2 linked regions of the Homo sapiens genome follow. The protein of the gene in region 2 interacts with the protein of the main gene of each other region in a pairwise test. Each region holds a gene or a part of one and is shown on either strand. Other genes may lie near its edges.

Region 1 (7,028 bases), on a different chromosome or scaffold from region 2:
AAATGTAATTATGATACACCATGAGGCTTCATTTGAACCACAGCTACATAAACCAGAGCCCAGCCTAATATGAGCATTTTTTTATTTTTTTATTTTTACCATTACTGCTACTATTATTTTTTTATTTATTTATTTATTTTAATTATACTTTAAGTTTTAGGGTACATGTGCACATTGTGCAGGTTAGTTACATATGTATACATGTGCCATGCTGGTGCGCTAGATATGGAGTAAAATACCAGAAGTTGCTTAAAAAAGTAGATGCCTCTGTTATTATAAGCTTTGTATACTACTTACTTTTAAACCGTATACATAAGATTGAAATAAAAATAAGATTTAAAAACTGTATTACAGGCCAGGCGCAGAGGCTCATGCAAAATCCCAGCACTTTGGGAGGCCGAGGCGGGTGGATCACAAGGTCAGGAGATCGAGACCATCCTGGCCAACATGGTGAAACCCGTCTCTACTAAAATACAAACAAAAAAATTAGCTGGGTGCGGTGGCACGTGCCTGTAGTCCCAGCTACTCGGGAGGCTGAGACAGGGGAATCGCTTGCTTGAACCCAGGAGGTGGAGGTTGCAGTGAGCTGAGATCACGCCACTGCACTCTAGGCTGGTGACAGAGCAAGACTCCGTGAAGTTAGGAGTTCAGTCAAGACCAGCCTGGCCAACATGGTGAAACCCTATCTCTACTAAAAATACAAAAATTAGCCAGGCATGGTGGCAGGCGCCTGTAATCCCAGCTACTCAGGAGGCTGAGGCAGGAGAATCGCTTGAACCTGGGAGGCGGAGGTTGCAGTGAGCAGAGATTGCGCCATCGCACTCCAGCCTGGGGCACAAGAGCGAGACTTTGTCTCAAAAAAAAAAGTATTATAACAAAGTATACAAATAAGAGTAATTATGGATCAAGGTAGAGATGTCTCGCTCAAAAGTCCTGAGGCCTTTGCTTGATCTTCTCTCTCTGAGAGATGCTGTTGGAATCTAAATTGCTGATGCTGCCATCAGGCTATTCTGATAATGTCACTGAAAGTGGTATCTCTAGGCTTAAGAATTGGAGCAATGAAAATGTGAACAGTGACTGCCAGGGAATCAACATTTCTAGGGATGCTCATTAGAAGTAATGACTCACAATTCTGTTAACCATAACAGCAGGTATCATCCTAACTCACGGCACCTACATATATGCCCTTACTGTTCTCTTCCTCTCATTTCCCACCACTTTTGTATTGGTCTTAATACTGATCTGAAGCATAATTGTTTTATGTAATAAATTTTATTCTATGTTTTATGCTTCCTGGGCTTCATTTCAAAAGCCAGTGAAATTAACTTTAACTCTCTAGCATTTAAACCGTCAAAAACAATTAAGTAAACATTCAGTGGTATAATTTTTCCTGGTGTGTATTGTTTTATTGCTATTTTTGTGTTTAAATCTTTACCAAACAAGCTATCATATTACTTATTTTATGAAATGGATTTCGGAAGACAAGATTCGATCCAAGAAGATTATTTGGTCATTATCTATACTGTTGATAACAGATCTCTAAGGTTCAAAGTAATACTGTATACTAAAAAGGGTTCTGGTCCTATATAAACTATCTGGTGAGGTGATTAGCCTCCAATTCACTATTAACTCTAACTGAACAAGAATCCTACCAAATATCTGTCAAGACAAGGGGATCCCATACCTACCCAGAGTTCTGGTTCCCATTAATAAGACACATACTATGGAAGATATATCAAAATAGCATAATACTTGTATAATAATTGCTCCTATTTTGACTACCTTCATTCAGTTCGTCATTTTGCTTTTAAGGATTACTGTCCAAGCATGGCATAAAAAAGAAAAAGTGGTTGGATACAGTGCTCATGCCTGTAATCCTAGCACTTTGGGAGGCTGAGGCAGGAGGACTGCTTGAGCCCAGGAGTTTGAGACCAGCCTGGGCAACATGGCAAAACCCCGTTTCTACAAAAAATGCAAAAATTAGCCAGGTGTGGTGGTATGCACCTGTGGCCTCAGCTATTCAGGAGGCTGAGGTCGGAGGATCACTTCAACCTGGGAGGCAGAGGCTGCTCTGAGCCAAGATCGCACCACTACACTCCAGCCTGGGCAACAGAGCAAGAGCCTGTCTTAAAAAAAAAAAAAAAAAAAAAAAAAGGAAAAGAAAAGAAAAACAAAGCAGGAGGATCTTGAGGCCAGGAGTTTGAGACCAGCCTGGTCAACACAGCGAGATCTCATCTCTACAAAAAATGTTGAAATAAAAAAAAAAGAAAGAATCAACACTTAGGTTGCTTCCTCCTTTTTGACTGTTGTGAATAATGCTGCTATGAACAGGGGTATACAAATCCCTCTTTGAGACCTTACTTTTAATTATTTTGAGTATCCCAGAAGTGGAACTGGGACTAAAAGCTAAATGCAACAAAGGCAGTTCTGGTATTACACTTAATACAAATGCATTTAATCTTATAGTCACCTGGGATTCAACAGCTCTTAAGAGTGTTTTTTAAAAAATTAGTCTTGTTAAATTTTAAGAAAAGCAATATCTTTAATTATAATATTAACATCAAATATTTTTATTTTCTTTCAGTGTTGGCATTGCGATTTTCTAGTGTCTGAAAACATTTATCTCTCATGTAACATTCACGTCTTATTTCAGACAACTGATCTCTTTAAAATCCTGTCAAATCAATGAGTAAAACTGGCCCACTACAAAAACATTACTACTTACCAACCTCATACCCATTAAAATGGCTATTATCTAGAAGGAAAAAAAAAACAAACCCAGGATAGAAAATAACGAGTGTTGGCTAGGATGCGGAGACACTGGAATCCTGGTGCTTTGTGGGTGGGAATGTAAAACGGTGCAGCCACTATGGGAAAACAGTATGGTGGCCCATTAAAAATTAAAAATAGAATTCCCATATGACCCAACAATTCCACTTCCGGGTATATACTCAAAATAACTGAAAGTAGGGTTTCAAAAAGGTATTTGTATACTCACATTCATACTGGCATTACTCACAATAGCCAAAAAGGTGGAAGCCACCTATGTGTCTATTAACAAATGAACAAACGAAATGTGGTACATACATATAATGGAATATTATTCAGCCTTAGAAAGGAAATTCTGGGCCAGGCACAGTGGCTCAGGCCTGGAATCCCAACACTCAGGGAGGACGAGGCAGGCGGATCACGAGGTCAGGAGATGGAGACCATCCTGGCAAATGCAGTGAAACCTTGTCTCTACTAAAAATACAAAACAGTAGCTGGGCGTGGTGGCAGGCACCTGAAATCCCAGCTACTTAGGAGGCTAAGGCAGGAGAATTGCTTGAACCCAGGAGGCAGAGGTTGCAGTGGGCCGAGATCGCACCACTGTACTCCAGCATAGGCAACAGAGCGAGACTCCATCTCAAAAAAAAAAAAAAAAAAGGAAATTCTGACACATGCTACACAATGGATGAACCTTAAGGACATTATGCTAAGTGAAATAAACCAGTCATAAAAGGACAAATACTGCCACTTCATGAGGCATCTAGAGAAGTCAAATTTATAGAGACAGAAAGTAGAACGGTGGTTGCCAGGGGCTGGGAGGATACAGAAATGGGGAGTTGTTTAATGGGTACAGAGTTTATTTTTGCAAGATGAAAACGGTTCTGGTGATGGATGGTGATAACGGTTGTACAACATGAATGTGCTTATTGCCCCTGAACTGTATACTTAAAAATGGTTGAGATGGTAAATTTAATGTTTTATTTTACCACAATTTTTAAAAATAATGAAACCACTATTTTGCATAGGAGCCACAGTGATATGTCATAAAACTGTAGCAAGAACATATTCCCTCAAAAATCTTACGTAAAGAATTTGGCTGGGTGCAGTGGCTCATGCCTGTAATCCCAACACTTTGGGAGGCCGAGGCAGGTGGATCACTTGAGGTCAGGAGATCAAGACCAGCCTGGCCAACATGGTGAAACTCTGTCTCTACTAACAATACAAAAATTAGCCGGGCCTGGTGGTGCATGCCTGTAGTCCCAGCTACAAGGGAGGCTGAGGCACAAGAATCACTTGAACCTGGGAGGTGGTGGTTGTGGTGAGCCGAGACTGCGCCACTGCACTCCAGCCTGGGCAACAGAGTGAGACCCCATCTCAAAAAAAAAAAAGAATTAAATCAAGGTCTTAATGATCAAATTTAATACATCTCTGGTTGAAAAGACAGAGGCACAACACTTTACTAGGTTTGGTGAGCAAAAAGAAAACAACTTAGTAAAGAAGGATCCCCTGCACATACTACACTCATAGGCAGAAGGTGCTCCTACCTCCCCCATTCATCCTCCCTTTGGGTATCTCCTCACTGAGCCCTCCCTGGTTGCCTCTCCTATAGCTCAAGTTCATCACAGACTCCCCAGGGGCACAACCCAATTCCAAACCAGTTGGTGTTTCTAGAAAGACTCATTCTAATGCTATCCTCTTTCTCAAAACTCTGTGTTCCCACCTATATCCTATTCCCTGAATGCCCTAAAACCCATTCTCTCAACCAGACTTCTTCACAGGACTAGGTCCAAATTCCACCTAATCTGAAGCTCTAATCCACAGCACAATCTACCAGAGCCCCATATCTTCCAAAGAATTCTCTTCTACCAGCATGTTCTGGTCCTAACTCAGCTATGTATGCCCAGCCCTAAAATATTTCAGAGTGCATAAAAACTACCAGGATAGCTAGTTAAACTTGCAGATTTCCACCGCTCATCCCCAGAGATTTTCACTCAGTAGGCCTAATGTGGGGCCCTGGAATACGCACTTAAAACAAGCATACCAAGTCATTTGATGTAGCCTAGCACTAACCTAGGCTAGCCACGTGAGCCTAGGTAAGCCTGAACTAGCCTGAACTCCCAGCCAACTAATGCTTTGGATACAAACCCCATATTGTCTGTGCTAAAACTCATGAGAATAATCTGAGCTGCCCTACACCCTTCCCTCCACCGGGAGACTTCTGTGAATAATATGAATGTTCATTATATTGAACAGATTATATGTGTCTGTATCACAAGGTAGCTTAGGTTACATCTGTTTTCAAGGTTGGATCATATCTGCCCTGACTGATGACCTCACAGTTATGAGACTCTTTTAAAAATGGCAATTTCCTGAGGAAACAGTACTCTTCAGAGGCATGCTGCAGCCTGATGCAGTAACTAAAGGATTCCCTGCCTTACACCTAGTTTCAACTGACCTTTTAAAAGAAAAAGAAAAAAAAAGAAGAAAAAATGCTTTAAATGTATCCAATAATTTTGCACCTCTAACTTTCCACTGAACCTTTTAGAAAGTTATTATGAGCTTGAGGTCTGAGGGGCCTAAGAAGTGCCCAAACCACATTTGATGTCATTTCCCTGCAAAGGAAATGTGACACCTACGCCGAACTGCCAAGGTATTTTAGCTTATATACAGGGATAGATAAGCTTCTTAAAAATTACATTTCCAGTCTAATTATTTTGCAATTTCAAATTTATCACTGTCTGACATTATCCATGCCTATACAAATGGCTTAAAAAGAAAAATGGAGCCTAACAGGATATTTAGAACTGCCTGGAAGTTTAAAAAGTATGAATTTTAAATTCTGAGCAAATCAATATTCTGTTTTCCACATTAAACATATGGAAATTAATATGGACATGTCAACTATATTTGGTTGTAAGTGACTCATTTCAATACCTGGCATGTCTGAGGACTAATGCGAGAGCAATCTGGTAAGAGAAAAAAAGGTCATATGGATAATGCAATGAAATGGAAAGATCACTGGACTCTGGACCAGCCGTATTCCAAGGCTAGCTCTACCATGGCTTGGCTGTATGATCTGACTTTGTGGCCAAGGGCAATTATGAGACTGTTTTCAACAATGACAGGATACCTATCAACCTATGACCTCACAGAGACACTGGGAAGACAATATACATGAAATGACTTTTAAGCTGTGTTTCTTCAAAACGATACATTCCAAATTACCCTAGACTGTGTTCTTTTTGCAGTGCTAGTACGTGGTCTATACTGGAAAGTTCCTTTCATTTACTCAGTTGATTCACTGAGGAGCTGCTCTGCACAAGGCTCTATGTTAGGTACTGAGGAGGACTAGAGAAGAAAATGTTAAGGTGTAAACTGGTTGGAGAAACAAAGTACAGCCATGTGCCATGTAACAATGCTTTGGTCAACGACAGACTACACATATGATGGTGGTCCTATAAGCTTATAATACCGTATATTTACTGTACCTTTTCTTGTTTATGTATGTATACATACACAAATCTTTACCATTGTGTTGCAACTGCCTACAGTATTCAGTACAGTAACCTGCTGTACAGGTTTGTAGCCTAGGAACAACTGGCTATTCCATATAGCCTAGGTGTGTAGTAGGCTGTACCATCTAGGTTTGTGTAATTATACTCTGATGTTTGTACAAAGAAGTTGCCTAACATATTTCTAACATATTTCTCAGAATGTATCTCTGTCAGTAAGAGTCACATAACGGTGTACATAATGATTTCATTTCTAAGTGACAAAATGAGTGGTTCAAACAGTACTATGGATTGACCATTCTAGCTTTCCATCCTCTTGTCCATGAGAAAGTAAATGCACTGTAAACTGATCCTAAGAGACAGAATACATAAATCATGTAAACATTTGGTGTCTAACCCTGTTACAATAATTTTTCATTTTTGGCTTTAAAAACTGTTACCAGAACTCAGTGAAGGAAAAGACATGGAAAGAAAACATTTCTCAAAGAAGGTACCTATGAGGTACACTAAGTACTTCATCTAAACTCTCTTTGGGCCAGGCATGGTGGCTCATGCCAGTAATTCCAGCACTTTGGGAGGCCAGGGTGCATGGATCACTTAAGACGAGGAGTTCAAGTTTCAGCAACATGGCGAAACTGAAAAACAGAAAAAATCAGCCAGACATGGTGATGTGCACCTGTAGTCCCAGATGCTTTGGGGGCTGAGGTGAGAGGATCACTTGAGCCTGGGAGGCTGAGGCTGCAGTGA
Region 2 (7,028 bases):
ACTTTGATTTTTTTTTTTTTTTTTTTTGAGATGGAGTCTCACATTGTTGCCTGGGCTAGAGTGCAGTGGTGTGATCTTGGCTCACCGCAATTTCCACCTCCTGGGTTCAAGCGATTCTCCTGCCTCAGTCTCCCGAGTAGCTGGGATTATAGGCATGCGCCACCACACTCGGCTAATTTTTTTGTATTTTTAGTAGAGATGGGGTTCTCCATGTTGATCCGGCTGGTCTTGAACTCCTGACCTCGTGATCAGGACCAGCTCGGCCCCCAAAGTGCTGGGATTACAGGCGTGAGCCACCGTGCCTGGCCGACTTCGAATTTTTTAATAAGAATTTTTTGGCCGGGCGCAATGGCTCACACTTGTAATCCCAGCACTTGGAGAGGCCGAGGCAGGCGAATCACCTGAGGTTGGGAGTTCCAGACCAGCCTAACCAACGTGGAGAAACTCCGTCTCTACTAAAAATACAAAATTAGCTAGGCCTGGTGGCGCATGCCTGTAATCCCAGCTACTCCGGAGGCTGAGGCAGGAGAATCGCTTGAACCCAGGAGGCAGAGGTTGCGGTGAGCCAAGGTCACACCATTGCACTCCAGCCTGGGCAAAAAGAGTGAAATTCCATCTCTCAAAAATATAAAAGAATTTTTTATTTGGGTCTAAAAATTTAGAATTTAGAATATGACTACCAACTTAATTTCTTAGTCTTTGTTTCAGATAATATATCTCAGTGGAGTATTTAGAGTTTAAGAAGATGAGTAATCATGGAGCTGAGTACTTGATAAGTTTGAGAACATGTTCATGATCATTGTGGGGATATGACATTTTTTACCTCTTACCATATATCGATTCTCACCCACCCCCCATTTTTTGAAACAAGGTCTTGCTTTGTCACCCAGGGTGGAGTGCATGGCTCACTGCAGCCTCGACCTCCTGGGCTCAAGCAGTCCTCCCACTTCAGCCTCCCAAGTAGTCAGGACCACAGGTGTATGCCACCATGACTGGCTAATTGTTTAATTTTTTTGTAGAGATGGGGTCGCACTGTGTTGCCCAGGCTGGTCTCGAACTCCTGGGCTCAAGCTGTCTCCCTGCCTTGGCTTCTCAAAGTGCTAGGATTACAGGCATGAGCCACCACACTCAGCTGATTCCCTTTTTAGTAAATCTACTAGATCTATGACTTTATTTGTTAATAATTAGAGTAGCACCATGTTTTTAAGTGATTAGAACTCTTGAAAATGAATATCCACACTAAATTCCATTATAGCAAAGAACTAATTTAGAAAATGTTCATAATGAGAGTTTTGATGGCGATTTGTTTTGAGTAGTGTTGAAAGGCTCTTAGAGTGCATGTGAAGGGATGAATCTTTTGAGAAAAGAAAGATAGTAGACATTTTCTGAGACATAAAATAATCCAGATTTATTCCACCAGACAGCTTTACAGTGTATAGTATTTTAAGAGCTAACTGCCTTCAGATTCACTGGACTTTTCTGTCCTTTTGCCAGGTACTGACTTGGGCAACAGCAGTGACTACAAGTGCCATACTGACCAATTGGAAGAGTCTTTGCTTATCGGAGCTGTTCTAAAAGGCTTATTAGTTTTTGGTCTTCATTCTATTTAATGTTTTCATGCCTTTATAAACTTTTTACTTCCAGCCCAATTTTTCCCATTGTCTTGGTACAGGTCAGCTGTGTCCAAGTTTGTTAGGGTTTCAGCTAGCCAAAAATGGTATTTTCATTTGCTGAAATTCTAAACAAAATAATTAAAGTTAAAGCACAGATGATGATGCTACCTTATTTTTCTACATGTGGGAAAGCTTGATTGATAGTAATGATTAGCGCCTGCATCTCACAATCACTGAGAAATGAATGCAGCACTGAGCTCTGTTTGCCCTCTAAGCTTGTCCCCAGAAAAAACAAGATATACCCTAAATAGTAAGTTATAATATTTTTATTAGGGAACATTATTAGAGTTTTTTTTTAATATATCTCGTAGCCATGTCATATTAATCTTTTTTCTTTTTTCCTTTTTTTCATTTTTCTCTTTTCTCTTCTCTTCTCTTCTCTTTTCTCTTTCTCACTCTGTCACCCAAGCTGGAGTGCAGTGGCATGACCATGGCTCACTGCAGCCTTGACCTCCCAGACTCAAGCAATCCTCCCACTCCAGCCTCCCAAGTGACTGGGACTACAGGCACGTGCCACCATGCACGGCTAATTTTTCTATTTTTTGTAGGGGCAGGATCTCAGCATGTTGCCCAGGCTGATCTTGACCTCTTGGACTCAAGCAATTTTCCCTCCTGTGCCTCCCAAAGTTCTAAGATACAGGCATGAGCCACCACACCCAGCCTAGAGAATCCTTAATGTTTGAAGTCTGTCAGGCTATCATGGTGCTCAGCAGAGGATGTGTTAGTATTCTGAGAATAGGACTTCTAACTTTAGTTTTACCTGAGATTATTCTACACCTAACTTGAAACTTTTGGAGTATTAAAGGTTCAAAGAAGTTAAGAGAAAAGCAAAGCTTGATAAACTGACCAGTTTGTGTCCTGCTAAAGCATAGACAGTTTTACCATGCTCTTCCCAGTGACATGAATATTCTTTGGTTAGCATTCAATTTGGTTGCTTTCTTTTTTGTTTAATCAGGCACTGTCACCACTGTATTATTGTCATCATTTTGCTTATTGATTTTGCTTATTGTCTGCCTTCCCCTCTGTGTTGTAAGCTCCATAAAGGCAAGAAATTTTTTCTGTTTTATTCACTGCTTTAAGCCCAGTTTCTAAAACAGTGTCTGACACGTGGTAGGCACTCAATAAATACCTGTTGAATTATTACTAATTCATTTTGTAGACTTTCATCTGTAAGATGACAGATCTGAATCATCTGAAATCTCCATCTCCATAAAACATATAAGCTGGCTGGGTGCAGTGGCTCATGCCTGTAATCCTAGTACTTTGTGAGGCTGAGGCGAGCAGATTGCTTGAGCTCAGGAGTTCGAGACCAGCCTGCGCAACGTGGTGAAACCAGCTCTCTACTAAAAATACAAAAAATTAGCCAGGTGCGGTGGTGCACGCCTGTAATCCCAGCTACTTCGGAGGCTGAGTCAGGAAAATCGCTTCAATCTGGGGGGCGGAGGTTGCAGTGAGCCGAGATTGCACCACTGCACTCCAGCCTGGGCAACAGAACTAGACTCTGTCTAAAAAAAACACACAAAAAACACACAAAAAAACATATAAGCTGAACCTCCCCTGTGGGGTGGAGTCAGTTTGACTCACCTCAGAGTTGTTTGAAGAGAGAGGTTCCCAAACAGTTTTACCATAACCTTAGTTCACTGAATGTTTTGTGGTAGAAACACTGACTAGTAAGTTCAGTAACAATGCATGGCTCAGATTGTGGAATATTTCTGATTTAAATGTAATCTGTAGTACTTCACACTTCAGATTTTTGAACCTTTTAACCTACAATACTGGGCTTCATTTCTGTTATGCCCTAATCTAGTCATGCTGAATATCCATACTGTATAATGGTAGATGCAAACCATGTTTACTAAATTAGAACTACATATGAATTACAGTTTACTTCAAGTGTTTTGTTTTGGTAATATAGCTTTGCCACCAAGCTTTTACAGTTTTCCTTGAATGTACAAAGACTTTTTATTCTAATAACCAGATTACAGTTATACTATTTCTAAAGCTCAGCTCTTATTACATCAAGTTTCAGTGATGTGTTGAAGTAGGGGAACTTTATATGGCATTTCAAAACATTTTCATAATACTGGAATTTTATTTATTGTAAAATATTTTTGTCTTTAATAAAATAATTTTGAATGAAGTCATAATTTTGCTTTTATCTGGTATTTGGATGTTTACATGAAAAAGGGAACATAAGCTGAATAAAGGTAATCCCAAAAGAACTTCTCTGTCACATTTTCCCAGTTACTCATTCATGCTCAAGGCATTGCTGTCCTGAGCCTACTTAGGTCTCAGCTGACCAAGCTGAATCTTTGATTCACTTATTTGGGGCTATTTATTTAAGACCCACTTTGTCCCAGCTCCAAAGATACAACAGTATGCAAGAAAGACAGCGCCCAGGGTGGGCGTGGTGGCTCATGCCTATAATCCCAGCACTTCAGGAGGCCGAGGTGGGCAGGTTGCTTGAGCCCAGTAGTTTGAGACCAACCTGGCAATGTAGTGAGGCACCAGGTCTGTAGAAAGTTTAAAAATCAGGCCAGGCGCGGTGGCTCATGCGTGTATTCCCAGCTCTTTGGGAGGCCGAGGCAGGCGGATCACGGGGTCAGGAGATCGAGACCATTCTGGCTAACACGGTGAAACCCCGTCTCTACTAAAAATACAAAAATAAAATTAGCCAGGCGTGGCGGCGGGTGCCTGTAGTCCCAACTGCTTGGGAGACTGAGGCAGGAGAATGGCGCGAACCCGGGAGGCGGAGCTTGCAGTGAGCAGAGATCGCGCCACTACACTCCAGCCTGGGCGACAGAGCAAGACTCCGTCTCAAAAAAAAAACAAAAAAAAAAAAAAAAGAAAAGAAAGTTTAAAAATTAGCCAGGTGTGGTGGCATGTGCCTGTGGTCCCAGCTACTTGGGAGGCTGAGGTGGGAGGATAGCTTGAGGCCAGGAGGTCAAGGCTGCAGTGAGCCACAATTGTACCACTGGCACTCCAGCCTGGAGGACAGAGGGAGACCCTCTCTCAAATACAAACAAACAAATAAATGAAGTAAGAAAGCACCAGCCCTTGGGATATTTGTTTTGATCCTTTTCCCCAGTAAAAATTTGTTAGAGTGGGAAGTTAGAAAACAGTGTGGTAGATTGATGGCTACTATGGTATTAACTGATAAGACTTAACGTATTACTTTGAGAAGGATATTTTCTATTTTAAAAGTAATTCTGGAGTTAACTCTGTCTTTTTTTTTTTTTTTTTTTTTTTTTTTGAGACAGTTTCACTCTTGTTGCCCAGGCTGGGGTGCGATGGCGTGACCTCAGCTCACTGCCATCAATGTCTGCCTCCTGGGTTCAAAGGATTCTCCTGCCTCAGCCTCCCGAGTAGCTGGAATTACAGGTGCCTGCCACCACGCCCGGCTAATTTTTTTGTATCTTTAGTAGAGATGAGGTTTCACCATTTTGGTCAGGCTGGTCTCGAACTCCTGACCTCAGGTGAGCCACTGCACCCAGCCAAGTTAACTCTGTCTTAACCAAAGAAATCAATTTGCACAGTACAATATTGATTTAAATGACAAGTTAGTACAAGAGATTTTGGAGGGGCCAGGCGTAGCGGCTCACACCTGTAATCCCAGCACTTTGGGAGGCCAAGGCGGGTGGATCACTTGAGGTCAGGAGTTAAGAGACCAGCCTGGCCAACATGGTGAAACCCCATCTCTTCTAAAAATACAAAAATTAGCTGGGCTTGATGGTGCCTGCCTGTAATCCCAGCTACTTGAGAGGCTGAGGCAGGAGAATGGCTTGAACCTGGGAGGTGGAGGTTGCAGTGAGCTGAGATTGCGCCATTGCACTTCAGCCTGGGCAACAAGAAAAAGACTCCGTATCAAAAAAAAAAAAAAAAGATTTTGGAGGGGGTCCACCTTTTTCAGTACCCTTTAGTTTAGAACATCACAGCTATTTATTTGTACATGGGACAGATTCTCCCTGTGGATAGAATAGAATAATTCTAGTCTCATTTTTCAGATTCAGGAAGGGCCCATTGCATCTCCTAAAAATCAAAAAAGTCTGGCCACTAGTTTTTTTCCTTTTCAGATTGTGAGACTAACAGATTTATAGAGGCAGTCTGTGCTCTGAATTGTTCAGCTTACAGATTGAAGTCTATCAACCCTTTATAGTATCAGGTTATTTGTTTTGTATAAATTATTTTGCTTTTGTTGATTAGCTCTATCAAAGAATAAAAAACCTCCCAAGATTTCTCAATCTTACCGCCCTTCTTTATGCTTTCTCTGTACAATGGAAAAGTAGACCAAAAGTATTTGTCATGAAAATTTTTTATCATTTGCAGTTTGTGGCATGATATGGCTTTTCTGTTTCACTGTTGGCAGTTTTATGCATGTCCTGTAGGATAACTTGATCGTTTTGTTACATATTTATGTGTGTATATATACATCCTGTGTGTGTATATATATATTTATGTAATTTAAAAAATAAAAAGCATGCTGCTTGGCTTGGCTAGCTAATGTGTAATTGTACCTGGTAAACAATTTTTTTCTTTGAAATTCTGATCATAGAGGGATTGAGCTCTCTTTGCTCTGATGAGCCATCTTCAGAAATTATGACTTCTTCCTTTCTTTCATCTTCTGAAATACATAACACTGGCCTTACAATACTACATGGAGAAAAAAGCCATGTGTTAGGGAGCCAGCCTATTTTAGCCAAAGAAGGAAAAGACCACTTGGATCTTCTAGATATGAAAAAGATGGAAAAGCCTCAGGGGACCAGCAACAACGTATCAGACTCTTCAGTTTCTCTTGCAGCAGGAGTTCATTGTGACCGTCCTTCTATTCCAGCCAGTTTCCCAGAGCATCCTGCTTTTCTCTCAAAGAAAATTGGTCAAGTGGAAGAGCAAATAGATAAAGAGACCAAGAACCCAAATGGGGTATCAAGTAGGGAGGCTAAAACTGCATTGGATGCTGATGACAGATTCACTTTGCTGACAGCCCAGAAACCACCTACTGAGTACTCTAAGGTAGAAGGCATTTATACATATTCTTTGTCTCCATCCAAAGTTTCAGGAGATGATGTTATTGAAAAGGATTCCCCTGAATCACCATTTGAAGTAATTATTGACAAAGCAGCATTTGACAAAGAATTTAAAGACTCATATAAGGAGAGCACAGATGATTTTGGTAGCTGGTCTGTGCACACTGATAAAGAATCATCCGAAGACATTTCAGAGACTAATGACAAGCTTTTTCCACTGAGAAATAAAGAGGCAGGACGTTACCCAATGTCTGCATTGCTCAGTAGGCAGTTTTCACACACAAATGCAGCACTGGAAGAGGTGTCCAGATGCGTGAATGATATGCATAAC

Evidence for each region. The genes of interacting proteins can lie anywhere in the genome.
Region 1: the proteins of RTN3 (region 2) and SACM1L interact in binary tests that used the Homo sapiens proteins (3 or more experiments, as listed by UniProt).

The regions. Positions count from the first base shown.
Region 1 is NC_000003.12:45,692,396-45,699,423, reverse strand, and holds part of SACM1L (phosphatidylinositol-3-phosphatase SAC1), read right to left. Parts: intron 1-7,028.
Region 2 is NC_000011.10:63,712,477-63,719,504, forward strand, and holds part of RTN3 (reticulon-3), read left to right. Parts: intron 1-6,225; coding exon 6,226-7,028. UniProt on the Homo sapiens protein: May be involved in membrane trafficking in the early secretory pathway. Inhibits BACE1 activity and amyloid precursor protein processing. May induce caspase-8 cascade and apoptosis.